4 separate regions of the Homo sapiens genome follow, and all the other regions are reported to be linked to region 3. Evidence: microRNA targets listed by miRTarBase, many of them from high-throughput screens and not tested one by one. Region 3 holds a microRNA gene; each other region holds the end of a gene's coding sequence.
Evidence for each region. Region 3 holds the annotated microRNA hsa-miR-3160-5p (GGCUUUCUAGUCUCAGCUCUCC, at 5,230-5,251, shown strand). A microRNA usually pairs through its seed, bases 2 to 8, with sites in the 3' UTR of a target mRNA and lowers its output. Matches are read on the target gene's strand: a 7mer-m8 pairs with bases 2 to 8, a 7mer-A1 pairs with bases 2 to 7 and ends in A, and an 8mer does both.

Region 1 (7,999 bases), not on the chromosome of region 3:
AAAACACAAATTGCTAGACGCACTGGCAGAACTTCTGATTCAGTAGGTCTGGGTAAGGCCCCTAAATTTGTATTTTTAACAAATTCCCAGGGATGCTAATCTTGTTAATCCGGGGACCACCCTTCAAGAACCTTTGATCTAAGCCATTCTGTTGTGACATGTCTGCTCATAGGTGGTACGGTGATGGCCCAAACACAAAAATTTTTATAATTAAGTCTAATTCCAGGCCATTCTTTTAAGTTACTGTTTTAAATAATTTTAAATTTAGTGATTAAATAGAGAAAATGGATTTTGTGCCTTCTTACTAGCATTACCATTTCATAGATTAATCAGCTTCTGAACCCTTATTTTCTATAAAAATGAGGAAAGCCTTAGCTTTATAGGTTGGTTTTAAGGATTAAGTGTCTTTATGTGAGAAGCACTCGGCAAACTCTGTTTAGTCATGTTAAATAAAAAATATATGTTTTTTTTTTTCAGAGTCTAGCATTCCAGAAACTGGGGATGGAATCTAGACTTGTGAGCGGCGGTGGTGCCTGCAGTGACACTGGTGCGTGCACTCCTGCGCGGTCTTTCTTAGCGCAGCAACGGCACATCACCAACACCAGAAGAAATCTCTCTGTTAAAGTCCCTGCTACAACATCTGATTAAACTGCAAAAAAAACAAAACAAAACAAAAAAACCACATAAAATAGAAGTGTCCTTAAAATATTTTGTACCTTTCAACTAACTACCAGATTGAAAAAGAGTTTATGATGCGGGATATCAGGTATTTTAAAATCAACATGCATCAAATTAATTTTGCCAGTTGACTTTAAAAACAAATTATAGAATTAGCCATCTCTCTGAGGGAGCACATTTGAATAATTGGAGATGCAGTTATACACACATTTCAAACAAACATTTGTCTTTTGAGAGTATTATAATTTCAAATTGGCCTTGTATATTTTAGTTAAATGTTTTCAGTTGTATTAGTAACTTAATTAATTTTCAATAGCTATTCAGTAATACTTAATCTTAGAACATTAATTGGATTTGTTTAATCTTTTTTTGTTTTTTGTTGATTTATATGAAAACAGTCTTGAGGCAGGGACATGGAGAACTATGCAAGGGTGATTTCTTTGACTTAATATATACAAGGCTTTACTTCTGTCCCCTAATTCTTCCATTGAATGTGTACCTCTACCTTGTCATGTCATGGAAGATACAACATTTGGAAGATCTGACAATTGGAATGACTTTGGAATAATAAAATTGACTAATTGGAAATTTTGCATATTCTGAAAATCTAATCTCATAGTTCTAATTTGTACCTATGGCAAATAAGGGCTTCTGGACATCATGTTTAAAATGTTAAGCATAAGAAATAAACTGACATTTGTAATAGGTGACTTTCTGATGGAAAGCAAGCTATATATATATATATATATATATATATATATATATATATACTTTTTGTGAAATGTCTATATACTTTTTAAGGTAATTAATGAAGATTTCAGTTATTGCTTTTAAGCATAAAGTTGTATTTAGCTTCTGCTGAAAAATTGTATCATATAATAATTTTGCTTCATTGAAAAGGGATGTTGCAGTGATGAAACAAGGTGGGATCAGTTTGATTTTGTTTACTTATTAAGGAGTTTATCTTGGGCTCAGTTTGTGGTATTCAGTTCGTTTCTGCCCAAAGCTCTTATTTTCAGAGGTGTTACTTTTGAACTTTTGGGGTCATTTTTAAAAGTTAGCACTTTTGAATTTTAGTTGTGTTAAATATGTGCTGTCGTATATCATAGCCATGAGCCATATATGACAATTTAAATTTAATTAATTATAAACTCAGTCTCTTGGTTGCACCAGCCACATTTCAGATGCTCAATAGCCACATGTGGCTAGTGGGTACCATATTGGACAGGGCAGCTATAGAATATTTCCATCATTGCAGAAAGTTCTATTGGATAGTACCATAATCTTTTTATAGTAACTTGGAAATACTATTTGATATTAGATGTTAGACCACAAAAAGAAGAAAAATGTTAGGACTATTTCAGATATAAAAAGGAACTGAATTGTGACATAATTAGCATCTTACATTCCATACAGTTGAATACCTTATGCTGTGACAACCATAGTTAATCATTTCAGTGCTGTTCAACATACATACCTATCAGCAGTGTGTTTAGACCAGGGGTCTGCAAACTTTCTGTGAATGGACAAAGAGTAAATACTTTAGTAAATGTCTTAGGCTTTGTGGCCTACATGATCTTTGTTGCAAGTACTCAACTCTGCCATTATAGAGTTAAAGCAGCCATACACAATATATAAACAAAATGGGCATAGTTGTATTTCAGTAAAACTTTATTTACAAAGACAGGCGGTAGGCCAGATTTGGCTTGCATGCTGTAGAGCTGTGGTCTAAATTTTATTCATAGACTTTCTTTGCAAATACAGTGTGAGTATTGTTCCATTTACAGTATTATTATTTTTTAGATACCTGGTTTTTAGATTCTTGCCTGGTAACTTTTTACTGAAAATACAAGAATTTCGTACTGCATTTGCATCTCCGAGATTAGGGAGCACCTGTCAGGATATGTTGTTCTATCAGGGTTACTTCTGTTGACTACCTCTTAGATTTTGATACAGTTATATTGTTGAGTTTCATTTTCATATATTCTTGTAGTGTCTGCTTGCCTGTGACTTCTGGTAAAATAAAATAAGCCTTTGAAAATATTTTAGCATGGTATTTAACATTTTCTAAATATTATGGCATTTTGACATATTTTAGTCAGCGAAGACATCTGCCCCTTTGGTGTTTCTACTTGCTTATGATTGAGATTTTACAAGCCCTTCAAACTCCGTTTTAAAGGAATTTATTGTAAAACATTAACTTTAATAAATTAGTGTTTTCACAGATCAGATCATTATACTTGGAACTTCTAAATCATGCAATTTCTGAATAAGGACATAAGGCTAGATTCATTTTTCTTAATAGAGAAAAAGGAAATTTCTGATTTATCACTTTTCTAGTTGATAAGTAGGATTCAAAACGTTTGATATGTAAGTATTTATATAAGACTAATGTAATTTAAAGTTCTGTATTATTGTGATTAATCATACAGAAATTCAGGAACTGATCAGAAGTGAGATTCTTTTCCACATCTGGTTAATGTAGTGAGTTGACACCCTGTGGGTGGTAAAGCATTATAAACATTTCATCTTGAACCATGATTTATACACATCTGTGTTATAAGGGAGGCTTGAGTACATATACCAATGAAGAGATATTCAGCATTTGTCTATTTGATAAGGAATTAAATGTCCTAGTGATTATAAAGTAAAACCACAGACCAATTTGCAAATGATCTTCAATGTTAAGCACTTGCTCTAAGATTAAAATTCCTTTTCTTTTTAAGGTTAAGGGTGTGTACGTATGGCAGTGATGTCTATGTTGAGATTAACTTATGTATTGAGGAAAATTTGAAGTTTATTTTTTCGATGAATAAGGCTGTCAAATGATTTAGTATAGATTAATGACATCTTTTTTAGAAATATTAAAGTGAGTATTCCTCATTATGTCATCATTTCTGATAATTAGAGTGCTAATTTGAATGTTAGATAATGTTTCCACATCTATACCTATTTCTTTCTAGGGCACTTCTGACCCTGGGGCTTGGGGATGGCCTTTAGGCCACAGTAGTGTCTGTGTTAAGTTCACTAAATGTGTATTTAATGAGAAACATTCCTATGTAAAAATGTGTGTATGTGAACGTATGCATACATTTTTATTGTGCACCTGTACATTGTGAAGAAGTAGTTTGGAAATTTGTAAAGCACAAACCATAAAAGAGTGTGGAGTTATTAAATGATGTAGCACAAATGTAATGTTTAGCTTATAAAAGGTCCTTTCTATTTTCTATGGCAAAGACTTTGACACTTGAAAAATAAAACCAATATTTGATTTATTTTTGTAAGTATTTAGGATATTATTTTAAATAAATGATTGTCCATTATCAATATAATAGTTGTGAAATGATTTAAGTAAATAAACTTTATGCTTCTGTGTCTGTTGATTTTGATGGGTTTTTAGTGGGCATAAATGCATGTTTATTTGCTGCATTAAATAGAGGAGTGAAAATATGTAGGTTTGTAAAGAAAAAGTAATTGCATTCTTCTAATTTTGTTTTTCCTTTTAATTTTTTGGGGAATGAAAAGATATATTAAATGATTTGGGAATATGTCTTTTTATGTCTCCATTTTCACCTCTGGAACCTAGACATCTTGCATTAACACGGAATCAAAACATTTCTGGGGCCGGGCGTGGTGGCTATGCCTGTAATTCCAGCACTTTGGGAGGCCGAGGCAGGCAGGTCACTTGAGGTCAGGAGTTTGAGAACAGCCTTGCCAACACGGCAAAACCCCGTCTCTACTAAAAATACAAAAATTAGCCAGGTGCAGTGGCAGGCGCCTGTAGTCCCAGCTACTTGGGAGGCGGAGGCACAAGAGTCGCCTGAACCGGGAGGCAGAGGTTGCAGTGAGCTGAGATTGTGCCACTGCACTCCAGCCTGGGTGATAGAGTAAGACTCTGTCTCAAAAAAAACAAGACATTCCTGGGTAATATAATTTTAGAGACTGCTATTTATCCCTGAATATCCATTCTACCCCTCTTAACTTTAGTGATGGAATCCCATATTTTAGCTTGTTACATTATTATCCAGGAAAAAAAGAGAAAACCAAAACTGTGCTTCCCAGATTCCAATATAACTAGGTGGGGTACAGCTTTGTTCTAGATATCTAGCTTGAATGTACGCAATTCACATTCTTCTGAAGTTCCAGGGGATATGGAACTTTCAAGCTTCTCTCATTGTCTTTGGCTTTTGACAGCTTGACTATCAAAAAGATGATGAGTTGTGGATCTAGGTGTTGACTTCTTCAAATTTATTCTATTTGCAGTTTGTTGAGTTTGGATCTGCAGACTAATGCTTTTCATTAAACTTGGGAAATTTTTGACTATTATTTCTTGAAACATACTTTCTTCCTCTTTCTATCCTTTTCTCTGGTACTCTCATTATGCACCCGTTTTTACTTGGTGTCCCACATGTCTCCAAGGCTCTGCCCATTTTTCTTCATTCTCTCTTGATTCTGCTCCTCAGAATAGATCATCTCATTGATTTATCTTCAAGTGTATTGGTTCTTCCTCTGCCAGCTCAAATGTGCTGCTGAGTTCCTCTAGTGAATTTTTTGTTTCAGTTATTGTACTTTTCAAATCTAGAATTTCTAGTTAGTTGCTGTTTTCTATTTCTGACTCCTTATTGTGATTTTCTGTTCAGTGGAAAATCATTTTCATATTTAACTTAATTCTTTATCCAATAATTAATTCTTAGGCTCATAGAACATACTTAAAGCTTTTGTCTAGTAAATCCAATGCCTGGGCTTCTTCAGGGACTGTTTCCAGTAACTTCTTTTTATCCTGTCTATGAGCCATTGTTTTCTGTTTCTTCACATGATTCATAATTTTTTATTGGAAATTTGGCATTATAAGTAATATGTGGAAACTCTGGAAATCAGACCCCGCCCCACAGTGTATTATTGTTACTGTTATTGCCTTTTGTTTAGAGACTTGAACTAATTCTGTAAAAATTCCATTCTTCATCATGTGCAGCCACTGAATTCTGTGCTTTTTAAGCAAAGTATCCAGCTAATTTTGGACAGCGATTTCCTTGAATGTTTTGAAATAAGTCTCTCAGCCTTTCCCAAAGGGCTCTGCGTGTGTTTTGCATTATACCTTCAACACTCCAGCAGGTAGTTTACAGTTCTATTGTAACCTTAGTTTCTTGCTTACACAGACCCTCACAGTCAGCCAGAGATGAGAGATTCGAGTCTTTCCAGGTCTTTGCCTGGGTATGCATGTAGCCCTCACATGTGCATGGTCTTCTAGATTCCTAGGCATATGTTAGAGTGTTAGAAGCCCCGGTGGGCATCTCTATTTCCAGTTTATCCTTTTAATCCTCTGTTTTAATTCCAACTTGTATTGCTACCTTGGGTTACTGTAATGTTGCACAATTGTCACTGATTTTTTTTTTTTAACAAATGTCCTGTAGTGTGGTTTGCACAGAATCAGCGTTTAGTAAGGTAAAACAAAGACAAGTTCTGAGAATGGGGCTTTTCAGGGAACTGCCAGAGAGGTCATATAATGACAACTTTCTGGGAATGGGGCCTTTGGGGTGCTCCAAACCCATTCTGCTCCCTCCAGTGGCTGCTTGATCACGGGTATTCACAGCTACCATAATTGTGAGACTGTTGCTTTTAAGGATACTTGAGAGCTGGGGAGAGGAGAACCGGCATAGGGCAAGTTAAAACAGAGCTCCCTGTTTTTACTGAGAGCAGCTCTTCTTTTTTTAAACAAATGCTCAGGTTGTTTTGAGACTTTAATTTTCAGCATTCTGAAAATGTTGATTTTGATTATTTTTGCTCACGTTCTCAGTGCTTTTATGGAATGGATTTTTGGAGCTCCTTAAGTTACCATTTCAGAAGTTCTCGCCACAAGTCAGATTTTTGAAAGTAGGAGTGACCTCAGTAACCAGTATTTAAAGCCCACCTTTTCCAGAATGTGAAATTAAGAAATATAGAGGTTCATGGCTTGCTGCATGGCTACGGAAAATTTATGGCACACTGCAGCATTAATGTCACTTGGCTGCTTGCTCTCCCCTACCCCTCACCTCCACTGTGTGTCCAACAAACATTTCCTGAGCATCTGCTATGCATGAAACAGGTACTGAATGTGTGTGAACAAGACACAGTCACCTCTGAAAAGCTCATTTTAATTGGGAGATTATATGGAAATAGGAAATAAAACCTTTTAAATTAAATTCTCAGGGAATGGAGGAAGGAGCAACTAACCAAGAGTCAAGAAAAATGTCACTGGAGAGCTAACGTTTAGGCTGGCCTTTACAGGATGAATAGGAGTCTGCCAGGTATAATTAAACATTTCTTGCAGAAAAACTAGCTTCTGTAAAGACATGATGAAGGATCTGGCCTATTTAGGGAAGTAATAGTTCAGTACTTTGGCAGGAGAAGTACTAAGAGATGTAATTCAAAAGGTGAATAGATTTCACATCATAAAAATTACCATATGTCCACCTAAGGAGCATGCCCTTACATATGGCTATGCAGGCCCTACATCAGGGGTGTCCAATCTTTTCAATCTTTTGACTTCCCCAGGCCATGTTGGAAGAAGAAAAATTGTCTTTGGCCACACATAAAATACACTAATACTAACAACGATAGCTGATGAGCTAAAAAAAAAAAAAAAAAAAAAAAAAAAGAAAGAAAGAAAGAAAGAATCTCATGTTTCAAGAAAGTTGTCTAATTTGTGTTGGGCCGCATTCAAAGCCATCCTGGGCCGCTTGTGGACAAACTTACTCTACGTGATCCAACGCCAGAGGGCACCATTCACCTAGACTACAAGTGAATGGCAGCCTGGGGTTTTACAACATAGCAGCCATACTGAAGAATCTGTAATTTATCCTGTAGTCAGCAGGGAGAATATCTTGTTTTGTGGACACAGTGAGGAAAAGATCAAATTGCCTGGGGAAAAAAAAGGTCTAGAAATAAGTTCTCCAAATTGTATAATAGCATAACTGGATGCTTCTCTGAAATAACCATACAGCATTACTACTGTAATTGATGATTATCATGTCACTTTGATCTCATGTTTTCACAAGAAATACAATGCAGGTGTATCTGACAGCATAGGGTAAGTTATGCTGTAGTAATTTTGAAATTTTAGTTTAGTTTATAACAAAATAGGTTTATTTCTGACATCATACGTTCATCTTGAATAAGCTGTGACTCTGCTTCCTGTCTTTGTCACACTGGACAGACTCTTATCTAGAACACTGGTGGTCTCATGGCAGAGAGGAAACATGTTGCAATACTAGCCAGCTTTCAAGCACTTAGAAGTGGCTCGTGGAACTTTTGCTCTCATTTTATTGATCAAAGCCAATCACAC
Region 2 (8,024 bases), not on the chromosome of region 3:
CTGGTACCTAGAGGGTGAGAGTGAGGCTGCTCATCAACGTGTTCTCCAAGTCATAAGCTGCTGCTCTCCCACTCACGATGCTTGGTGATTCAGTGATGTTTTCCACTTAAAGACAGTGATAGCTGTATCACCACAGTTAATAGATGTCTGATGTGTCCCAGTCACAGAGATAATACAAATGTGAGGAAATAATGCTGGTGCCTGAAAGCATTGGAGACCATTTGTAAGAATGCCATTTGGTAGTTAAAGTGAACATGAAAATTGTTTAGTTTTTCTTGGTTTCATAAACATTTTTTCTTCCTGTAGAACTGATAAATTTCAAACGGAAGAGAGTGGCAGCATTTAGAAAGAATCTAATTGAAATGTCTGAACTGGAAATAAAACATGCCAGGGTAAGTGTTTTCTACAGATGAAGCCAACATCTTTTATGGTTTTTTCCAAGTTATTTCCCAGTTTACTAACCCATTGTCATCAGGCAGTTGGGGTGGCCTTGTGGTATTAATCGTCTGTAGTACTTAGTTGATGGGAGCCACTCATTGTTTATTTGTAGTCTTGTTTATAATGTCACCCATGACTAATTTTTAGCAACTTTTTTTTTTTTTTTTTAATAGAGATGGGGTTTCACCATTTTGGCCAGGCTGGACTTGAACCCCTGACCTCAGGTGATCCACCTGCCTTGGCCTCCCAAAGTGCTGGGATTACAGGTGTGAGCTAAAGCTCCCAGCCCTAATTTCTAGCAACTTTTATTCAATCTTTCCAAGGCCCTTGCCTTCATGGAACAACGCACTGATAGTGTCTTAAGAAGTTACAGTAAGCAGGATCACATTTAGGAGCAAGCAGGTGAGGGCAGAGGTGCTGGAGTGAACGTCGGCTCTTTGGCTGGTAGCCTTACCCACTGAGGGAGAGGAGCTGAAACATGAAATGGGGATGCGTGGTACGTTGCAGTTCACCTGGGATTTGATGAAGAGAAGGGCCAGCTTGCTCTGGCTGACTTTAAACCTCCCGTGAAAAGCCGTGTTGGTGTACTTGAGTCATTCCAGGTATATGGCAAGTTTTAATAATTCACTGGTCTGCCTTGCCTTTTTTCCCCACAGAACAATGTCTCCCTTTTGCAGAGCTGTATTGACTTGTTCAAGAATAACTGATATGCCTTCACTCAGAAGAAAAGAAATGAATGTGAAAGAAAGCCAAGCATCACTTGCACTTAAATCATTACCACGGAAGATATATTAGCTTCAACTTTAGTTTAAAATTATGTGAATAAATATTTTGATTTCTACAAATCTTAACATTTAACCATGTTGGTTTAAAAATATTATTGCTTGCTACTTGGACATAACTAATTTTTCCTTGTGCATTTAATACCTCTGGGCAGAATCCAAATACTGGGTTCTCCCGTAGTTCGTCTTTAGTTACTAAGAAAGGGTGTAGGACACATTAGCCTTCTGGAAACAAGTAGAAGCCATCACCTGGCCCATGTCCCTACAAACCCATGATTGTCAGGGAGGTGCCAGTTACAGCAGGTGATTCAGCTACTTGAGGTCGGTAACAGACCTTCCATTCCTCACTGAAGGTGGGGTTTGTGTTTTTGTTTTGCCCTGTTACTCCACTGGTAGTCATCTGGTGTTTGTACTATAACAACAGCAAGAAAATCTCATTTATCTTTATATACTCTTTGCACCTCCTTTTTTTAGTCGAGATATAAATATTTGAGGGGAGAGAAATATCTACAGGTATATATGGAAACAAATAATGTGGTCTGCTTTATAAGATGGCCAGATCTACATTAGGAAAAGTATAAGCCCCCTCCCTAATGGCCGCTGGGGGGTGAGGGCGGTGTGTTGTATGTCTTTGGGTGTTTGTTTTTTTATAAAGCATATAATAAAATAATCGTGCTACTAATGTACGGCCTGTTTTCGTGGAAACTACAACCAGAGTGTGTCCCAGGAGTGCAGGTGGTGCTAGGGTTTGGCTGTGGTTACAGGGTTTTCAGGTTCTGCCCAGAGTCCTGGGGGCGGTCAGGGGAAATTTGTCCTAGTCTTGACATTCTTAAGTACTCCAGGCCTTTTTTAGATGGTCTCTAAATGTGGGTTTGTCTGTTTGCTCCTGACCTGATGGAGGTTTGCATTTTGGCCAGGGCCTTTACCATAGGGCAGTGGTCCCCAGTCTCAGGTCCATGGCTTGTTAGGAAGAGGTGAGCCAGCATTGCCGCCTGAGGTTCGCCTCCTGTCAGATTAGCAGCAGCATTAGATTCTCATAGGAGTGCAAACCCAGTATTGTGAACTGGGCATGCAACAGGTCTAGGTTGTGCGCTCCTTAGGAGAATCAAATGCCTGATGATCTGATGTGGAATGGTTTCATCTGGAAGCCATCCCTTTCCACACCCCACCTTGTCCATGGAAAAATTGTCTTCCACGAAACCACTCCCTGGTGCCAATGACATGTCTTCAGGAGTTGTGTGTCTATTCCTTTGTTGATGACTGAGCACTTAGGGTGGTAATCTCCTTTACCTTTCTAATAAGTAATTCATGGTAAGACCATGAGACTAAAAACATTTTACCCACCACATTTAGCATCTGTTACAGCCAACTGGTATGAGGGTTGCAGAACTGATTTCAATACATACAGGGAGCATGTTTCTTAACATTTATCTGGTCTTCGTGTCTTGCCTCCCCAGCTATTTACAGGCGGCCACAGTGCCTTCTACCTTCACAGTACATACTTGGGAAACGGTGCACAAAATGAGTGAATTTAAACTTGGCAGTTGTAACTTCAGTCTGGGCTCCTAACCAAATCTGTCCTTCCTACCCATCTCCCCCATAATGTCCACAGCAGCCACCCACACACGCCCAGCATTCTGTTAGTGTAGAGCCAGCACTCCTGCAGTCAGGTTCCTGGGCCGCAGTGCTTGAGCACCAGTGTGATCAGCCCTGATTGGTGGAGCTCTGGCTGTTGGCCTCGGGGCCTTGGTGCATTTTCTTGAGACTAAACCTTGTCAAATGGACAGCAGAGGCATGAATCTTGAGTGCTGGGTCTGCTGCTCACCAAGTGATCTAGGCTGCCTCTCTCAGCTGACTGATCTGTGAGCTGGAGTCAGCACTTCAGAGGCCCCTCAAATTAGTTTTATGCCAGCAATCTCTAATACAGCCTTCATGGATGGTATGATTGTAGATGTTTTACCTGCTGTATTTGTTCCAAGGCTTTTCATTAAATTGCACCTGACAGTCACTTAGGAAATTTGAGGCACTCTGGGTCAGGGATGTAGTCACCTTTCCCCTTCTGTCAGTCACCTAGTGAGTTGCTACCTTTACCTGTATGTGAGGGTGCATTCATAGTGGTCTGGGGTGGGGGGATGGGTTTAGATGCTGACTGCGACCTGTGTGGTGTGCTGAGACCTGGAAAGGCAGGCAGGCACTTGGCAGCAGGAGGAACAGCATCAGGTGGGAATCCACAGCTATCTTGCTGGAGTGCAGGAGAGCATAGGTCCCACATTGAGAAATGGGAATTTGGGTCACTTCAGGGTGATGTGTGGAGAGGCTTTTGCTGTGTGCTTGTATGGTTCTGAGAACTAGTGATCCTCCAGGAAAACCCATGTGGGTGCACAATTCATAGGGAACCCTTGAAGGTTTCTAGAAATGGGAATGGGAAGTGGTTTCAGATGGGCTGCCTTAAGGCATCCAGGCCAAAAAGGCTGTGACTTGCCCAAGGCACGGCTGAGAAAGTTGCCTCGTGGCACACGCAAAACTGCACAGTTCACATGTCATACGATTTCATTAAAAGCTAGGATCCAGCCTGAGAAACAGCGCAACCGTGTCTACAAAAAATGCTAACCTACAGTGGTGGCATACACCTGGAGGGCTGAGGTGGTGGGAGGACTGCTTGTGCCCAGGAGTTCAAGGCTGTAGTAAGTTAAAATCACACCACTGTACTCCAGACTAGACAACAGGGACAACTGCCATCCACCTCCCCTCTCCCCGCCCTCCCCCACTCTGAAAAGCAAAATTAGGAGATTGTCACGAGGAAGGAAAGCACACCCCTGGTCTGTGAAGCCGTTGAGGTCATGTCAGACCACTGGGGTCGTTTGTGGTGACAGAGCACAAGCATTTGGCCAGTTCACCACCCAACACATTCACTTGTGCCATCTCAGGGTTTAGGGGTCTGTTTTCTGAACATTTGCCTTGCGCACCTTTTCTTTGTGAGGTTTCTTTGTGGTAATTCCCAGGCTCAGCTCTGTGAAGGGCGATTTCCGTTTGGAAGGAAACCTTGCACCATCCGCTTTCTGCCTGTAGGCGGCAGGGGCGACCCAGCACAGCCACCTGCCCACCCACAGCTGAGCAGGAGCCTGGTATCCCCGCAGAGCTGCTCAGATTATCAGCTTATAGCTAAGGTAGCAGGAAGAGAAATGTCAGGCTACTTGAGAGTTAAGTAGTTCTGAATGGTGTTTTCCCAGACCAGCAGTCCCCTCCAGGATTCCTGCGGGCTTCAGGTTTCTGGTTACCCAAGACACAACCTCCATTGCTGAGGCCATGCTGTTCGAGAACTCCCCATCTGAGCCTGGTGTCAAAACAGTTGTGATGTTGATGGGGGTTCACAGCCAGGCCATGTGATGTGTCTGGAAGGAAGTTGGGGGTGGTGGACAACATTTGGGCAGTGATCAGTTATGTCCTTTAGACACAGCTGGGTCTGCAAGGTCCAGGGGACGCCCTTCCCCATCCACTCCTCGCACATACACAAGGTGCCCCTTGCGTGGGTGAGCTGCCCACAGTGATTTCTTATTGGAGGTTTGGTTTGTCACCATTCAAAACCATTGACTTTTTTGGTTTTAATGTTTATTTCTAACTTTAATACATGTAGGGATTTAATGAAGTCCCCACATCTTGTAAAACAAAATAACAGTAAAATACCACATCTCAAGAATAAGTTATTAAATGTTTCTAGATTTTTTTCCTATCCGAATAGGAATTGTTTACAAAAAACGATTCAGGATGCCAGCATTGGGGTTGGATTCTGGAGGTTTTCTGCTGTTGGTTCTCTCTCTCCGTGGAGATCCATGGAGGAGTTTTCCTGAGGCCCCAAAACAGCTCTTTTGCATCTTTGTCCTTCCACGGCCTGCTTCCCATGAGGAAGAGGTGAGGGCCCCCTGCAGACAAGCACAGAGGCCCTGAGCCTCCCAGCCTCTTCCCTGCCTTCAGCAACCACCCCACCCAACCAAAGTCTTCATTAGCTAGAAGTTGTGAATGGTTTAGGTAGCTGTTTGGGAGGATTTTAATTTTTAATTGAGCCTTTCTTTTTTTTGGTTGGTTGGTTGTTTCTGAGACAGGGTCTCACTGTTGCCCAGGCTGGAGTGCAGTGGTGCGGTCATGGCTCATGACAGCCTCCAGCTCCTGGGCTGAAGCCATCCTCCCACCTCAGCCTCCCAAGTAACTGGGATTACAGGCACACGCCACCATGCCTGAGTAATTTTTTTAAAAAAATCTTTGTAGAGACGGGTCTTGTTATATTGCCCTGGGTGGTCTTGAACTCCTGGCCTCAAACAGTCCTCCCATCTCAGCCTCCCAAAACGGGATTACAGGCATGAGCCACTGCCCAACTGGGCCTGCCTTATTTTTTAATACATGCTTTACAAACCTCCTTTAAAGCTTCTTAAGTTGTGGGACCTGTAATATTCAGGCCAGGAAAATAACAGCCTGTAATCCTAGTCCACAGCCACTTCTGATAGTTGCCTTCCAGCTCTTATCCACGTTCATTAATACATTTGGTGTGTCCTCAGCTAAAGGAACAAAGGCCTGTTTGGGGGGATTTTTCGCATCAGTCAAAGGGTAGGGATTTGGGGGTTTGGGGTATAGAGTTTCCACTGAAACTTGCTGCAAGGAAATGGAGCAGGAGACTGGCCAGCTGCTTGGGTTTCAGGAACTGTTTATGAACGGCCTTACTTTTTAACTGTTACATTGCAGATCCTTTCCAGTTGTTCTGATGGGGTTTGGAGAGGGAATGGAGGTCATGTGTTTGTTGTTTACCCCATCCTCTCTACATTGCAAAAAGACAGGGAGGGGATGACCCATGCTCTGGACGGTCAACCTAAGACAGGGCAAAGTCAAGGAACAGTTAATAAGAACGGTGCTGTGCGGTGTTAGGCTGTGTATCAGTTACCCCTAAATCAGGCCGGATACCCATAGCAATTCTTGACATAGCTTCCCATTGCTCTGCCCTGCTGAAGTTAGGAGGTTTCTGCGAAGCAGTTGGCACACTTCGCATGAGGGTGGAAACCCGTAGCTAGAGCCAGCCTTCAAGATTCCAGCTGGATGCAGCTGCAGCTCCCGGGGCCTCTCAGCTCCTTGGATTTGTTGATTGTATCATGATCCCGTGATTCAGTCCTGTTGGGAGGCAGGTGGCTGGACATTTATCTGGGGGCAGAAAAAGTGTCAGAAGTAGGAGAAAGAATACACAAAAAAGACCCTAAGGGGAGGAGAGGAAAGGAGCCAGAGAGAGCCTGCAGACAGCAATGTAGGAAGCCCCATTCCTGCCTTCCTATGAAGCTGATCTTGGCCTGCTCAGCGAATGCCTCAGAAGACAGGAAATCCCAAGCCTGCAGTCTCGAGAAAAACATTGGAAACGCCTGCTGCGAATCCCAACAGGGCTCGCGCTATGTGTTTTTCTAAAGTCTGGTTCATGTCTGCAGTGCTTTTGACCCCTTTTGCACTGTCTGTTAAAGCACTTGTCGCCATAGGAGGGGGCGGGGGAGTGAAACTGACCAGATGTGACTCGCCTCAGAATTGGGGGCAAGAGGTGAAGCTGGTGTGAGGGGAGGGGCTACTTGCAAGGGTCCTTGTTGCAGGGAAGAGGGAAATAGGGTCCAGAAGCTGGGATCGTCATGCCAACTCCACCACCAAGTACTAGGCTGGGGTCTGATTTCAGTTTAGTTTAGGGCTAGGTACAACCTAAGGAAACTCCCAGACTCTGCCTTCACCCCCTACGTTTTATTCACTTGCAACAGCCAAAGGAATCTTCTTCGCACATGAGTCAGATTGTGACCCTACTCTGCAAATACCCTTCATGACTCCCTGTTTGACTCAAAGCCCCAGTCCTTCCAACAACTACAAAGCCCTACGTGATTTGATGTCCCCAACTCCAACGTTGTATTTTCCAACAATATTTCCAGTCCCGTATACTCTTCTGTAATGTGATCTTGCAGCTTTCCCATCAGAAGGAATCGGATCCCCCTCCTCTTGAACCTGGGTTGGCTGGAATGGCACATGTGTAACCCACCAGAACAGGACAGAAGTGACGCTGGCGGGTAACCTCCAGGTACAGAGCGGAGGAAGCCTTGCTCTTGGGCCACTCTCTTGGAATGTGGTTGCCATCCGTGAGGACCCACGCCAGATACAGAGGTCCCACATTCCAGTGAAGCCCCGTCTTCACGTCCTCCCAGCCCAGGAAGCAGACAGGTGAGTGAAGACCTCTCCAGAGCAGCAGTGTTCATAAGGACTTTCTGTGTGACGGGAATGTTCGGTATCTGTGCCGTCCAGCCTAGTGGTCGTTAGCCACATGTTAGCTGGGATTTAGATAAAACATGGAACACTGCCAAATTTGAATTCCATACAACAAATAATATAGTGTAATACATACCATGCAATATTTGGAACATAGTTATTCTAAAAAAAAATTTGTTGATTATTTAAAATTCGGATTTCACTGGGTGTCCTGTATTTTTATCTGCCAAGTATGGCAATTCTCTCTTTTGTAAAAATTATTTTAATTTTTTATTTTTTACAGAGACAGGGTCTACCTGTATTGCCCAGGCTGGTCTCGAACTCCTGAGCTCAAGGGTTCCTCTCACCTCGGCCTCCCAAAGTGCTGGGATTGCAGGCGTGAGCCACTGCGCCCAGCCAAGTCTGGCACTTCTCTATTAAGCACCTGGAATGTGGCTGGTGCAATTGAGGAAGCTAAGTTTTTATTTTGCTTAATTTTAATTAATTTCTGTTTAAATAGTCACATGAGCCTAGGGGCTACTGTATTAGACAGTT
Region 3 (8,087 bases):
CCCTGAAATGTACAGGTGCTGATTTGACAGGAGCTTTTCACCCTTTAGAAGCTGGGCCCCCTAATGTGAATGTAGGCTCATAGAGCAATAATTCACGTGTAGGTGGCCTGTAAGGAAAGTTTTAACAAAAGAGTTGGTTAAGAAGCTGATTTATTTTCTTGCTTTAACTCTCTTGTCATGTGCTGAGTGGGGGCGGAAGAGGAGGGGAGGGTGGGGACTGGTGCTGCTGAAAGCATTTATCTTCATTTCTGCCATCTCCCAGTGTTTATTACCCTGTGATCGACAGATGAGGAAAGCTGCCAGTCAAACCCACGTTCAGCACATTTCCATTTCCCTTCATTGCAGATTTTAGGCTTTTGAAATCTGCATCCTCTTTGCAGCAATAAAGGTCGTTTCCCTCCTGCTGCTGACGAGCCAAAGACCCTCTGGTCCAATTCCACTCGCTTGTGCTTCCACCAAACAATAAAAGCTGCGGGAGTCTCAGCAATTTAAGACAAGTGATTGGTGAGAGCCATTTAGTGTTTGAGTCAGTCGCTCTCTTTTTCTTTCTCTCTCACCTTTTTCTCCCTCAGTCCTTTTCCCTACCTTCACCCCTCTCTTTGCCCATTCTTATGCTGCTGAGGCACCCCCTTAAGCAGCTGCATTGCATAATGATGAGAGGCTGACAGTTTTCCTGGCTTCACCTAGGGACCCACCTAAGCCAGTGTCCTCTGTTGCTGGGATTAAGTATTGGCAGTGTCAGGTTGTGGGGAATGTATTAGTGGAGGTAGAGTAATTCTTAATACTCTTATCCACCTGCAAGTCTTTTGTCAGAGGTAGAGGCTTTGAGGAAATCCCTGCCTGGTGGGAGCGAATGCTAGATGTTTGTGTTTGGGGTTTTTTTTTCCCCCATTTTTCCTTAACACTACGTTTTTTGGAATACTGTTCCTAGTAATCTTTCAGTAGCATGTGTTCTTGTGAGCTTATTTGTTTTTGTCTTAAATAATGTTTGTGGGTGGAATAAAGGTAATGATACTCATTTCTTTGAAAATGGATGTTCTGCTTTCATAATTACTTGTCCCAATTACATCATTAGTGTAAGTGCAGGTAATTGCTTCATTAGGACATATGTATTGAAGGAGGGAGGGCAAGTCTATAGCATGGTGATAAAAACAGGCCTCACCCTCTTTCTCTACCCACACAGGAGCATCTCAGCTTGACTTCAGGGATCCAGGAGCCACCAGCCACCCTGTAAACAGCCCAGATTAATCCTGGGTTTCAGTGTCATGGGAGGAAGGAAGGATGACCTAGTAAAGAGCAACTTACTTACTTTCTTTGGGGTGGTAACTCATTGCTGAACTCTGGATGGCACTGGTGCGTTCAAGGCAATGTGATTGAATCATTGGGGATTATTACTGAATTAGGGAGCAAAGTATTCTTATGGAAGCTGTATGCTTTCTGAGGCTCACCAGGCCGGATGGCATGAGCCCTATCCTCTGTTTGAGTTATTTGACTGGCTTTTTAAGGGAGTCTCCATTTTCATTCTGGCCATGACAGATCAAGAGGTTATATTCTCCCATCAGACCTTACTACTTTCCTGTAGAGTTGAATATTATTCTGATTTTATGCCATGTCTGTGAATGTCTTTGTGTGCACGCTACCTAGTTATGCATCTCCTCTTTCAAAGCATGTTAAAAGATACCAATAGTAAATGATTCTGCTTATATGAGGCTAACTAAAGTAGTCAAATTCATAGAAAGTAGAATGGTGGTGACCAGGGACTGGGGAGAGAGGGAAAGAGGAATTGTTTAATGAGTAGAGCTTGAGATTTGTTACATACATACAGTTCTACTGAACTGTACACTTAAATATGGTTAAGATGGTAAACTTTTATGTTGTATTCTTTTTAGCACAATTAAAAAAAAAGAAAAAGAAAACCTATGCTGGGTGCAGTGGCTTATGCCCATAATCCCAGCAATTTGGGAGGCCAAGGCAGGAGAATCATTTGAGGCCAGAAGTTTAAGACCAGCCTGGGTAAATACTGAGATCCCATATCTACAAAAACAAATTTTTTTTTAATTAGCTGGGTGTGGGGTGGCGTACACCTGTGGTCCCAGCTACTTGGGAGGCTCAGTTAGGAGAATCACTTGAGCCCAGAAGGTTGAGGCTGCAGTAAGATGTGGTCATGCCACTGCACTCCAACCTGGGCATCACAGCAAGAACCCATCTCCATCTCAAAAAAAAAAAAAAAAAAGCTAATACCAGATTCCTTGTTCACTTACTACTTATTCCAGATAAGAAGGCTCTATCTACTGCTGTGTCTTTAATGAATATCAGGTTAATTTCTCTTTCTTTCTTTTTTTATTTTTATTTTTTTGAGATGGAGTCTCGCTCTGTCACCCAGGCTGGAGTGCAGTGGCGTGATCTCGGCTCGCTGCAAGCTCCGCCTTCCGGGCTCACACCATTCTCCTGCCTCAGCCTCCCAAGTAGCTGGGACTGCAGGCGCCCGCCACCTCGCCCGGAGAATTTTTTTTTTTTTTTTTTTTTTGTATTTTTAGTGGAGATGGGGTTTCACCGTGTTAGCCAGGATGGTCTCGATCTCCTGACCTCGTGATCCACCTGCCTTGGCCTCCCAAAGTGCTGGGATTACAGGCGTGAGCCACCGCACCTGGCCAATTTCTCTTTCTTTTTTGACCTGTTATAAACCTTACTGTGCTGTGGCCATGTAATCCTGGTTTGAATTGTTGTTTTGAGAAAATTTTTTTATGAAGCTGTGATACATAGGAATATTTCACAGTTTGCCAGGCATGATGGCTCACGCCTGTAATCTCAGCACTTTGAGAGGCCAAGGTAGGAGGATCACTTGAGCCCAGGAGTTTGAGATCAGCTAGGGCAACACAGCAAGACCCCGTCTCTAAAAATTAAAAATTAAAAAAAAATTTCATAGCTATTTCTTTTCCTTTCCTCATACACTGTATTCCAGGCCTTGCTACTTTTCTTGTTGAACTCTCAGACTATCATTGCTATATTGGCCTGATCCAGTGCCTTTGGCCTCAGTAGAGTCTTTCTCAGGTCTGCCCCTAAAGTTCATGATTTGCATGTGGACTAATATTATCCTTCTTTGGAGCCTTTAGGAGTTTATTGGACAATAAAATTATGTTTATTTGGGGGCCTAATTCCTACAAATAAGACACGTAACCATTGAAGTCTGTATTTAGAAAATATTTACCCTTTAATTCATGTTAAATATATTGCAAACTTGTTTAATGATTAATCTCAGCATCAGATTAAATGACTGGTAGAGTAGTTATTAAACTGCCTAAACATGATAGACCAAGTGCCTTACTCAGAACATTTCCTATGCCAGAATTATAGACAGCCACGTGGTGCTTTTTTGGGATTTTATTTTTGTGGTTTGCAGAAAATGACGTTCCCTAATACTCTTCATATCTTTTAGCCTCAGGAAACAGTGAAGACTCTATTTCAGCTATAGATAATACACTCAGAATTAGTCTTTGAAGCCCTACTTTTTCTTTACAATGGAAATAATTCTATTTATCTTAAGTCCTTTTATGATTGCTGGTTTTCCACACAGTATATTTTCTATAAAATAAAAACTACTATTTAATTCTCATATGAACCTATGGTTCAGTTATAAACATATGATAGAATATTATTCAGTCATAAAAAGGAATGAAGCCAGGCAGAGTGGCTCGTGCCTGTAATCCCAGCTACTAGGGATGCTGAGGTGGGTGGATTGCTTGAGCCCAGTAGTTCAAGGCTGCAGTGAGCTGTGATTGCACCACTACATTCCAGCCTGGGTGATAGAATGAGACCTTGTCTCTTTGGGGAAGAAAAAAAAAAAAGTGAAGTACTGAAACATGCAATAAGCGTGGATAAACTTTGAAAATGTTATGCTGAGTGAAAGAAGCCAGACACAGAAGGCCACCTACCATATGATTTCATTACATGAAATGTCCAGGAGAAGCAATTAGTGATTGCCTAGGGCTAGGGCAGGAGTGGGACAGAGTAAAAGGGAGTGACTGTTAATGGGTACGGTATTTAGGGGAGATGAAAATGCCTGAAATTAGACAGTAATGATGGTGGTTGTAAAATTTATTTGCTGATGGTTACATAACTGTGCGGATATGCTAATAACCTTGAATTGTATACTTTAAAATAGGTGAATTGTAAGTTATATCTCAGTAAAGCTATAATTTTAAACAGACAGACACACATATATATTTGGGCATTTTTCTCAATGTCAGAATCATAAATGAGAACTCAGAGAAACTTGGGACACTTCTAAGCATGGAAGAAGTCTTCTTATTTGTCATCAGGGACTTTTTCCAGGTACCAGGCTATAGGATACATTGACTGTGATTTCAGATTAGATTAAATGATGATTAGAGTGAGTGTGACTGAGTACTTAGTTATACCCCTTTCTTAGGACAGATTTTAAGACTGCATTTGAATGAAGCTTTCTGGAAAGAAGATTAAGTGTTCTTCCTAGGATGCCATGCAGATATACTCAGAAAGGGAAGATGGTTCCCTTGCTCTGAGAATTATTTTTTGTAAACAGAAGCCAGTGTATTTATTTACAGAGAGCTCAGATAATCCATAAGAGAAAAGTTAAAGTAACCAAAGCTAGGTAGGGTAGCATGTGCCTGTTGTCCTAGTTACTGGGAAGTCTGAGGCAGGAGGATCACTTAAGGGCCAGGAGTTCAAGGCAAGCCGGGCAACATAGTGAGGCCCCATCTAAAAAACAAACAACAACAACAACAACAACAAAAAACCTTAAAATAACAAAGGTTTTTAAAATGTACATAAGACACTAGTAGACCATCTAAAAGATACACAGTGAGCTGGTAAACAAATGAAAAGATGTTCACCAATACTCTTAATTATTAAGGAAATGAAATGGATCCAAAAAATAGGATTACCATTTTTTACTTCACAAATTGATAGACATTTATTTGAATAGTGTTTTCTTAATAACAGCATTATTGAGATATGATTCACCTACCATACAGGCCACCTATTTAAAGTATACATTTCAATGGCTTTTAGTATATAGAGTTGTGCAGTCATCACCTCTATCTAGATATTTCATATCATCTTTATCACCTCCTAAAAAACCCCATACACATCAGCAGTCACTTCCCCTTTCCCTCTCTCACATCCCTCCAGCCCAAAGCAACTGTCAATCTGTTTGAAAAGTTGATAAGTTTTTCAGTTGGACCTGCCCTGGGCTTTCTAGTCTCAGCTCTCCTCCAGCTCAGCTGGTCAGGAGAGCTGAGACTAGAAAGCCCAGGGCAGGTTCATATAACAGCCAAGCAGAAAGATAGTAATTGTGTCTCCAGGATGATGAGTGTTTACATCCCCAACCCCATTCTTATTTCATCTTCCCAGCAGCACACAGTCAGAGATGGCCATTCTGAATTAGAAAGTCTCAAGTTAAACAGATTTTTCAGGACTGAAATGTAATTTAATCATTTCCTTCTTTGCAACTTGCCCTTTTTTACCTTCCCCGAATTAGCTTTTCTGATAGATTTGCTAATGATTCCCATTGTTCAGTATCTTCACTGAACTGTTGAATCATACTTTTCATTTCCCTTCTCCTAGAACAAATCTTAGAGAGAAGCTGTGAAGCTGTTTTGAAAAAAGATTCCTAATTCTTTCCAAGCAACAGAAGAGAAGAGTTTCTGAGAGAAGCAAAGGTAGAGAGATGCACAGAGGCTATTAGGCTTGGCAGAGCTCACCTATCATGTGACTGTGATGATTATTATGATTTTATCCCTAGACACATTCTGGGAGCTCTGGCCTACAAGTTGAAGACCTGACTCTGGAATGAGACTTGGCAGCTTAGTTTTTGCCATTGTTGTTGGCTGATAGTTAGCCAGGATCACTGGATTTAAGCTTCTTTTCCTCCTTGTTTTGTCTGTCATCAGAATAATCTTTATTTCTTCTTTTGCTCTAAGCCTCAATGAAAGGAATTTCTGTGGTTATATGATAGATATGAACTACCATGACTAGTATTGTCCTTATGAACAGCTGCTGTTCCCACTGTCTCCTAGAATGTGAATGAAAGTCGTGGCCCCTCCCTCTTTTTTAGGTTTATTAAAAGTTGAGTGGAAAATACAGACAGTTCCCATATACTCCCTCCCCTTACACCCACAGGCTTCCCCACTGTCCACACCAGTGTGGTACATTTGCTGCAGCTGATGAACCAACGTAGACACATCATTATCACTCAAAGTATGCGTTTACATTAGGGTTCATGCTTGGTGTTGTAAATTTCACTGGTTTTGGCAAATGTATGTGCCATGTATCCAACATTGTAGTAACATAGAAAATAACTTTACTGCTTAAAAAATCTCCTTGTGGCTGTACATGGTGGCTCATGCCTATAATCCCAACACTTTGGGAGGCCAAGGCAGGTGGATCTCTTGAGTTCAGGAGTTGGAGACAAGGCTGGGCAACATGGTGAAACCCCATCTCTACAAAAAATACAAAAAAAATCAGCTGGTCATGGTGGCACACACCTGTAGCCCCAGCTACTCGGGAGGCTGAGGTGGGAGGATCATCTGAGCCCAGAAAATTGAGGCTTCCGTGAGCCGTGATTGCACCACTGCACTCCAGCCTGGGCAATGGAGTGAGACCCTCTCTCAAGAAAAGAAAAAAAAAAAAAATCTTGTGCTCACCTGTTCGTCTCTGCCTCCCTGCAAACCAACCCCTACCAACTACCCATCATTTTTCTGTCTCTATAACTTTTCCTTTTCCAGAATCTCATACAGTTGGAATCCTATAGTATGTAGCCTTTGACTTCTTTCATTTAGTAACATGCACTTAAGGTTCCTCCATGTCTTTTTGTGGATTGATAGCTCATTTCTTTTAGCATGAATAATATTCCATTGTATGGATGTGCCACAGTTTATCCATTCATCTCTTAAATGAAGAACATCTTGGTTGCTTCCAAGTTTTGACAATTATGAATAAATAAATAAAGCTGCTATAAATATCCATGTGTAGGTGTTTGTGTGGACATTAGTTGTTTTTTTTTTTTTTTTTGAGACAGTCTCGCTCTGTTGCCCAGGCTGGAGTGCAGTGGCGTGATCTCGACTCACTGCAAGCTCCACCTACTGTGTTCAAGCGATTCTCCTGCTTCAGCCTCCTGAATAGCTGGGATTACAGATATGCGCCACCACGCCCCGCTAATTTTTGTATTTTTAGTAGAGATGGGATTTCACTATGTTGGTCAGGCTGGTCTTAAACTCCTGACCTCATGATCCACCTGCCTTGGCCTCCCAAAGTGCTGGGATTACAGGCGTGAGCCACTGCGCCCGGCCTATATTAAGTCTTGAAGTTGGGTTGTGTCAATCCTCCAATTTTGTGTTTTCCTTCCATATTGTGTTGGCTATTCTGGGTCTTTTGCCCTTTCATATAAACTTTAGAATCAGATTGTTAATATTCACAAAATAATTCAGGATTTTGATTGGGATTGTGTTGAATCTGTAGATCCAGCTGAGAAGAATTGACATTGTAACAGTACTGAGCCTTCCTATTCATGAACATGGAATATCTCGCTAATTTAGTTTTATCCTTTGTGATGTCTTTCATCAGTTTTGTAGCTTTCCTCCTATAGACCTTGTACATATTTTGTTAGATTTATACCTAAGTTTATTTTTTTGATGCTAATGTAAGTGGTGGTGTATTTTTAATTTCAAGTTCCAGTCATTCATTTGTTCATTGCTGCAATATAGGAAAGCAGTTGACCTTGTATCTTGAAACCTTGCTATAATTATTTAATAGTTACTGGAGTTTTTTTGTTGATTCTTTGGGATTAGACAGTGATGTCATCTGGCAACAAACAGATTTCTTCCAATCTGTATACCTTTTATTTACTTTGTTTTGCGGTGGGGGGTGGTTTCTGATTGCATTAGCTAGGACTTCCAATATGATGTTGAAAAGTATTGGTAAGAAGGGGCTTCCTTGCCTTGTTCCTGGTCTTAGGGGGAAAGTATCTAGTTCCTCACCATTGAGTATGATGTTAGTTGCAGGTATTTCATATTTCTATTTTCTGGAAGAGACGTTAGAGAACTGGTACA
Region 4 (7,891 bases), not on the chromosome of region 3:
TCCGCCCGCCTTGGCTTCCCAAGATACTAGGATTACAGGCATAGGCCACTGCACCCAGCCTCTTTTTCTTTTTACAGTATTTTAAATACTGGGTATTGAGAATCCAGATTGTAACAGCCGGAAAGGCTGGGGTTCTTAAGGTGGTAGAGAAAATAAATTTTAGAAAACCAAAACACCAAGAGAAAAACCAAAGGTCCCAGGAAAGTTAAAAGGAAGTACCTGAACCAAGCTTGTCCAAGCCATGGCCTGCATGCATCCCAAGATGGCTTTGCATGCAGCCCAACACAAATCTGTAAACTTTCTTAAAATGTTGTAAGATTTTTTTTGCATTTTTTTTTTAAAGCTCATCAGCTGTCATTAGTGTTAGTGTATTTTATATGTAGCCCAAGACAATTCTTCTTCCACTGTGACCCAGGGAAGCCAAAAGATTGGATACCCCTGGCCTAGGGATAAATCCTAGCACTTTAGGAAGCCAAGGCGAGTGGATCACTTGAGGCCAGGATGGTGAAACTTTGTCTCTACTAAAAAATAGAAAAGTTAGCCAAGTGTGGTGGTGCACACCTGTAGTCCCAACTAGTTAGGTGGCTGAGGCACGAGAATCGCTTGAGCCTGAGAAGCGGAGGTTGCAGTGAGCCAAGATTGCACCACTGTCCTTCAGCCTAGGTGACAGAGTGACTCTGTCTCACAAAAAAAAAAAAAAAAAAAAAAAAATGTGTAAATATCATGTATCACTAAGTCACTTAGACTTAGTGACATAGTAACAGTAGACTTAGATTCCTAAAATCTGGATTAAAGTCCCAGCTCTGCCATTTTTCCGATTTTATAAATTAGCAAAGAATGGTCCTGAGGAGAATGTATTGATTTGAGACTGTCAGATGGAGATTAAGAATGTAAAAAAGTTTGAAAATGTAAAGTAATGTGCAGTTCATATATGATTACTAGTATCTTAGAATTCTCTGGTATGGACCCTAAGGACGGTAGATTAATGAAGTTCTAGAGAAGTCAGTGAGTATTGTAAATGCAAATGGATGAACTATGCACCGTCCTTCCATTCCTTCCTCCTAGGCTGTGCTCCTGTGTCTGCTGGATTTATTCCCCATCCTGGAGAAAACCCTGCACTGGAAAGGAGATGGAGCTCGACCCACCACCCATTGTGATGAGGTCCTGCGGCTGATCCTGACCCACATGGAGCCAGAGCACCGCCTTCTTTTACGCAGGACCTACGCAAGAAACCTGCCGGCTTTCGTGAACAGGTGAGGCCCTGGGCTTTTATTTATTATTATTTTATACAGACAGGATCTTGCTATGTTGCTTGAGCTGCTCTCGAGCTCCTGGCCTCAAGCAATCCTCCCACCTCAGCCTCCCAAAGTACTGGGATTACAGGCATGAGCCACTGCACTGGCGTCATATTTTCTCTTTCATCTTTAGGTTGGGGATCCTAACTGTCCGGCACTTAAAGAGGCTGGAGAGAGTCATCATTGGTTATCTGGAGGTTTATGATGGACCTGAGGAGGAAGCTAGACTGAAGATATTGGAAACCCTAAAACTTCTCATGCAACATACTTGGCCCAGGTAATAGCAGCCTTAAGGTGCAAAACTCAGCCGATTTTCTCTTGAGAACTTGCTTGGATGTATTTAATACATTCAGTACAAAGTATTAAATGTATACTATGTATTTGAATACCTCCCATTTTCACACACCTATAGGATTTTAAACTGAGAAAATGGCATTAGAAAGATAAAATATACTATAGTTACTTGAGGTGCTCATAGTTGACTCTTTTACCAGGTATCAGTTCCAGATTCTGACAGTTAAATCGCTTCTCTTTGAAACTCTAGTATATCTTTTTTGTTTTTTTTTTTTTTTTTTTTGAAATGGAGTCTCACACTGTCGCCCAGGCTGGAGTCCAGTGGCGCGATCTCTGCCCACTGCAACCTCTGCCTCCTGGGTTCAAGTGATTCTCCTACCTCAGTCTCCCAAGTAGCTGGGATTACAGGCGCCCACCGCCAGGCCCGGCTAATTTTTTGTATTTTCAGTAGAGATGGGGTTTCACTATGTTGGCCAGGCTGGTCTTGAACTCCTGACCTTGTAATCCACCCGCCTTGGCCTCCCAAAGTGCTGGGGTTACAGGCGTGAGCCACCATGCCCAGCCTTTTGTTTTTGTTTTTGTTTTTGAGATGGAGTATTGCTCTGTCACCCAGGCCGGAGTGCAATGGCGCGATCTCAGCTCACTGCAACCTCTGCCTCCTGGATTCAAGTGATTCTCCTGCCTTAGCCTCCTGAGTAGCTGGGATTACAGGTGCCCTCCACCATGCCTGGCTAATTTTTAAAAAATTTTTAGTAGAGATGGTGTTTCACCATGTTGGCCAGGCTGGTCTCGAACTCCTGACCTCGTGATTTCCCCTCCTCAGCCTCCTAAAGTGCTGGGATTATAGGCGTGGGCCACTGTGCCTGGCTATATATCTTAAGAATGGTTTAGATTGGTGTTTTGCAGAATCTCCATCTAGGTACTCTTTGATGCCCCACAGGAAAAAAAAAAAAATTCTGTGGTCAAATAGGTTGGGAAACCATACAGGTTGTACCTCTCTCTAGATTTAGAATGCATATTAGAAGATTAAAGGTCATTTAGAAGTGTTGCAATAAAACATTTGCTTAACTTTGTTAATCCTAATGTTCTTTAAATCTAATTGAGAATAGAGTACTTCATAGCACATCATTTAACATCTGCAGAGCAGTGATCAGAATACCAATCTAGAGGCCAGGTGCGGTGGCTCACGCCTGTAATCCCAGCACTTTGGGAGGGCAAGGCTGGTGGATCACCTAAGGTCAGGAGTTCAAGACCAGCCTGGCCAATATGGTGAAACCCCGTCTTTACTAAATATACAAAACTTAGCCGGGCATGGTGGCGCGCACCTGTAGTCCCAGCTACTCAGGAGGCTGAAGCAGTAGAATCACTTGGACCCAGGAGGCAGAGGTTGCAGTGAGGTGCAATGGAACCACTGCACTCCAGACTGGGTGACGGAGCGAGACTCTGTCTCAAAATATAAAAAAAAATAATAAAAATTTAAAAAAAGCATACTAATGTAGGATATACTTGCTTGGAAATCATTCCAACTCTGGCTTGAGGTAGGTGTCAGGAACTGGAACCCAAACTGTGGAGTCAGCAGAAGCATCTCTTGCATAGCTGAAAATTGAATTCAGCCAGAGAATCTAGTGCCCCAACAACATACAGTAGCTATTCTGCACCGTATTCTCTCACTTCCTTATAAATGTGCAAGGAATCCAGAGTAACATTTCCCCATGACAACCTTTCCCTTAGTCATATTGGTAACTAGGTTGCATTTGTTTACTATCTTTCTCCCTACGGAATTATAATCTCCAGGATAACGGAAAACCACATCTATTATATTCTCCCAAAGTATGTTCAGTACCTAGTATTAGGTATACAAATATTCAAAGAATGAATGGACTGGAAGAGAATGAATCAATGGATGAATAAAATCGAATCAGATTGTCAGGTCTTTAAAGAGCAGAGACCAAGATTCCAAGAAGGGAGAGTGAATAAATGTAGGGAGGTAGAAAAGGAATATGTGTGTATGCGTATGAGGGGGTGAAGCATGGGAAATGGAAAACAGAGCCGATTATAAGTTGAATAACGAGGGCTGAGAGGCACCCAAACCATAGGAAAATGAGGAGTATTTAGATAGAGATGAAAACTTTTTTCTCCCAGTCACGCATCTGTCCATAAATATGATTTATTGTACATTTCACATTGTATTTTCACATTGTAAGTTAAATTATTTTCCACCTTTCATTAAAGTTTTTTTAGGGTTTTTTGTTTATTGTGGTAAAAATACATATAAATTTTCCATTTTAAAGTGTACAGTTCAGTGGCATTAAGTACAGTCACAATATTGTGCAGTCACTAGCATTGTCCATTTCTGGAGCTTTACCAAGGCGATGAAAACTTTTAGAAAGGTTAATAGTTACAAGTAAGTAGGCTGGACTTCACTGATGATGAGCTAGGATCTGAAATTAAATGACAGAAAATTCAACTTGACACAGTCCCAGAAGCCAAGCTCATTTCCCTCACTCTAACTTCCAGGCCTAAGATGGCATTAAAGTTAAAGGATTCAGGGCTCTCTCCAAGCATAGTTCAGTTAATAGAGTTGAAAAATAAAAGTATAGGCCCTTGGTTGGGGAGATCCTGGTTTCCCCTTCTCAGCCCATGAAGGAGCTGTTGCTTACAGTAGAACCAAGCTTCTGGAAGGAAGAGAGCAGTGTGGCAGAGGGTGTGTCTGTGTGTATAGGCAGTATGCTAACAGGAGACTTGAGGGTAAGAAATCTAGAGGCTGTCTTTGGTTCTGTTTTTAGGTCTTTTTCATTTAACTTTGACCTAAGTTCCTTAATTTAGGAAATGATAGCTTTCCACTTGACAGTCTTTGAAGTCTCTTCCAATTTTAATATCCAGATTTAGAGTATGAACATAGCTTTTCTTCCTGATTCCAGAGTTTCCTGCAGACTTGTGGTCTTACTGAAGGCCCTCTTGAAACTGATTTGTGATGTAGCAAGGGATCCAAACCTTACACCTGAGTCTGTTAAGAGCGCCCTGCTACAGGAGGCCACAGACTGCCTGATTCTCCTGGACCGCTGTTCTCAAGGACGGGTAAAGGTAAGGCAGACTGAAACTTGGTTTCAGTTGGGCCTCATTATCCTTATGTAATTCCCATGATTGATTATAATTTACTATGTATGTGCCTGACCAAGTCTGGAAATGAACATGGAGGGTTTTAGATCTCCATATGAGCCCTCTAGCCTCAAAAGAGCTTGATCTTTTTTCTTATTCATCTTTTAAAGCTATTCAGAACCATTTAGAACTAAAGGCAGGAGGATCAGCACATGTCACTGGGGCTAAGGACGAGACAGTATGGGCAAAAGCATTATGATCAAAAGTTTGTAAAATTTAAGTTCTGTTCTAGTCTTCTGAATTAAAAAAAAAAAGTAAAAATAATGGGCTATAAGCTCCCAGGAATAATAACATAAATAGAGCATTTCAGATGTTTCCAGTTTTTTAGGGACAACCATCTTTTAGGTAGATGTTTTTCCCTATTCTTAATTTATCTACATGGAAATTCTTCCTTTGGTTTCATATTCCACAAAAGTTAACTTCTCAAAGCCACAGCATATAATAGCTGTGTACTTCTATGTATTTAATAAACTACTGCCTCATTTCTTACCCCTTTTAGAAATCTTTAGTTGAAGATTGAAGGTAGCATGAAAAGAAATTCATGCCATAAGTCACTGGACAATCTACCCAGCAGGAAAAAAAAATTCATATCCTAAAAATATGTAGAGATAGTATGAATTGTTATTTTACCAGTTTATTCAAACTATTTCATCTTAGCTCTTTAATCTTGGGCAGTTTTCAAGCCCTAGATCCAACTGAATTTGCCTTGGCTGGAATTCTGCTGTTTCATGAGCCAGCAGGAGATTTGCAAGTACATTAACACAGTTTTTAAAGTAGCACCTTCAATACATGAGAGCTATATAAATTTAAAAATAATAAAAAACCAACTAATACCTATTCTGCTTAGTGACCTGTCCCTAAGTGTCATCCATTCTTTCCTCCTTTGAATATGATACCAAGGAAGAAGAATCAAGCAAAAGGGGAAAGTAATTAAAAAAAAAAAAATATCAAAGCCTGTTTGGTTTCATGTTTCAGGGTCTCCTGGCCAAAATTCCCCAAAGCTGTGAAGACAGAAAAGTGGTGAACTATATCAGAAAAGTGCAGCAGGTTTCTGAAGGCGCACCCTACAATGGAACTTAAGACTTGTATTACTTTCCCAAGAGGAAAGGATTTTCTTCCCATCCCAATTTGTATGAATGGAGTTATTTAAGAAAAAAAGATATTTTTACACGAAACTTTGTAAGTGAAAGCTGCTTTTTCCTTCCTTCCTTTCCTTTTACCTCCATAAGAATAGGGAAAGTAGAACAAGAAAAAATTGAACTCCTTCCATTTCTAAATAAAGTTTGGGAGAAAAAAGGACACCAAGTAATGTAGCATTTAAAATTTAGAAATATTTACATCCGTCATCTCATCCCAGATTCAAGAACTCATCTGTTAAGTTTCTCGGGCACAAGCTGTTACTTCAACACATATGCTATAAAAACACTCTTGTTCACAACTTAGCTTTCTTCACTCACTCCAGATTTCTTGCCCCACTGACGTGGCATAAATAATAAAAACACAAATATTGTGTTCAGTACAACACAAAAGAGCAAAAACTGGAGGTGTGTATGTGTTTAAGATAAAAAAAAAAAAAAAACAGTTCTGCATGTTCAGTCCTGGGTATAAATGCTGAAAGGGAAATCACGTGGTTTTGGCTTTGGCCACGGGCTCTGTCTCCTGCTCGTATTCTATTTCCACATAGGCTCGTTTTCTCTGCAGTGGTCCTCTCAAGGGCATTTTGCCTTTGTGTTTCGCACTAAGGGCCTTTTCTTCCTCCTCCTCACTGGAGGATTTACCATCCTGATCTTCATCACTGCTGGCATCCAGTTTATCCATATCCTATTACGGGGAGAGAAAAGATAAAGGAAGAGGGAAAACACTAGATTTCTCCAAACTCCCTTCCTTGTCCCCTCAATCTAGAACAGACTAGGGCATTGATTTGTCTATGTCTGTGTTCAGAAATTGTCCCTTTCTTTAATTTTTTTTTTTTTTTTTTTTTGAGACGGGGTCTTGCTCTGTTGCCCAAGCAGGAGTGCAGTGGCATAGTCATGGCTCACTGCAGCCTCAAACTGCTGTAGTCAACAATCCTCCCACCTCAGCTTCCTGAGTAGCTGGGACTACAGGCAACCGCCACCACATCCAGCTGAATTTTAATTTTTTTTTTTTTTTTTTTTGGAGACGGAGTCTCGCTCTGTTGCCCAGGCTGGAGTGTAGTGGTGCGCTCTCAGCTCACTGCAACCTCCATCTCCTAGGTTCAAGCGATTCTTCTGCCTCAGCCTCCCAAGTAGCAGGGATTACAGGCATGCACCACCATACCTAGCTAATTTTTGTATTTTTAGTAGACACGGGGTTTTGCTATGTTGGCCAGGCTGGTCTCGAACTCCTGACCTCATGTGATCCGCCCACCTCGGCCTCCCAAAGTGCTAGGATTATAGGCGTGAGCCACCACGCCTGGTCATGATTTTTAAAAAATTTTAGGCCAGGCCCTGTGACTCATGCCTCTAATCTTAGCACTTTGGGAGACTGAGGCAGGCGGATTACCAGAGGTCTGGAGTTCTAGACCAGCCTGGCCAACATGGTGAAACCCCGTGTCTACTAAAAATACAAAAAATTAGCCGGGTGGAGTGGCACATGCCTGTAATTCCAGCTACTTGGGAGGCTGAAGGAGGAGAATCGCTTGAACCCGGGAGGCTGAGGCTGCGATGAGCCCAGATTGCACTATGGCACTCTAGCCTGAGCTACAGAGCGAAACTTCATCTAAAAAAAAAAATTTTTTTTTTTATTAGAGATGAGGTCTCACTATGTTCTTCAGGCTGGTCTCGAACTCCTGAGCTCAAACAATCCTCCCATTTTGGCCTCCCAAAGTGCTGCAATTATAGGAGTGAACCACGGTGCCTGGCCACCTCCCTGTTTTTGTTTTTTTTTTTTTTTTGCTGCAGGCCAAAGGACAATCTTTTTACCCATAAAGCTCACCTCAAAATCACTTATGTCACTCTCATCTACCTCACCATCTTCGACAAATTCTCTTTTCCCCACATCCTATAAATAAAACATAACTGTTAGGTTCAGAATACATAATGAAGATTCAGATTAGACATCTAAGTAAGTACAAAATAACATAATGAGAACCACAGTCTTTTCACTAGGCAATGAAAATTTAG

Region 1: the mRNA of HOOK1 is a reported target of hsa-miR-3160-5p. Seed matches in the 3' UTR shown: 7mer-A1 at 1,399-1,405.
Region 2: the mRNA of SNX5 is a reported target of hsa-miR-3160-5p. Seed matches in the 3' UTR shown: 7mer-m8 at 1,182-1,188.
Region 4: miRTarBase lists MAK16 as a target of hsa-miR-3160-5p. Seed matches in the 3' UTR shown: 7mer-m8 at 6,191-6,197.

Annotation. Positions count from the first base shown.
Region 1 is chr1:59,872,318-59,880,316 of GRCh38, forward strand. It overlaps HOOK1 (hook microtubule tethering protein 1), which reads left to right. Exons shown (of 22, transcript NM_015888.6): 22 at 478-4,005. The coding sequence ends at 648. Among named protein-coding and RNA genes, the nearest start is that of CYP2J2, 50 kb to the right of the region's middle.
Region 2 is chr20:17,935,478-17,943,501 of GRCh38, reverse strand. SNX5 (sorting nexin 5) reads left to right here. Exons shown (of 13, transcript NM_014426.4): 12 at 307-392; 13 at 1,095-1,902. The coding sequence ends at 1,145. Among named protein-coding and RNA genes, the nearest start is that of SNORD17, 23 kb to the left of the region's middle. RefSeq lists enhancers at 2,418-3,009, 2,985-3,074, 3,105-3,194, 4,435-4,564, 4,197-4,790.
Region 3 is chr11:46,449,020-46,457,106 of GRCh38, reverse strand. It overlaps MIR3160-1 (microRNA 3160-1), which reads left to right and starts at 5,218; the gene lies at 5,218-5,302. All of the region lies in intron 11 of AMBRA1 (autophagy and beclin 1 regulator 1), which reads left to right. MIR3160-2 (microRNA 3160-2) reads right to left here and starts at 5,300; the gene lies at 5,220-5,300.
Region 4 is chr8:33,497,110-33,505,000 of GRCh38, reverse strand. MAK16 (MAK16 homolog) reads right to left here. Exons shown (of 10, transcript NM_032509.4): 9 at 7,704-7,769; 10 at 3,739-6,569. The coding sequence ends at 6,372. It overlaps TTI2 (TELO2 interacting protein 2), which reads left to right. Exons shown (of 8, transcript NM_001102401.4): 5 at 1,066-1,253; 6 at 1,429-1,572; 7 at 4,511-4,673; 8 at 5,724-6,279. The coding sequence ends at 5,828. Among named protein-coding and RNA genes, the nearest start is that of TTI2, 12 kb to the left of the region's middle.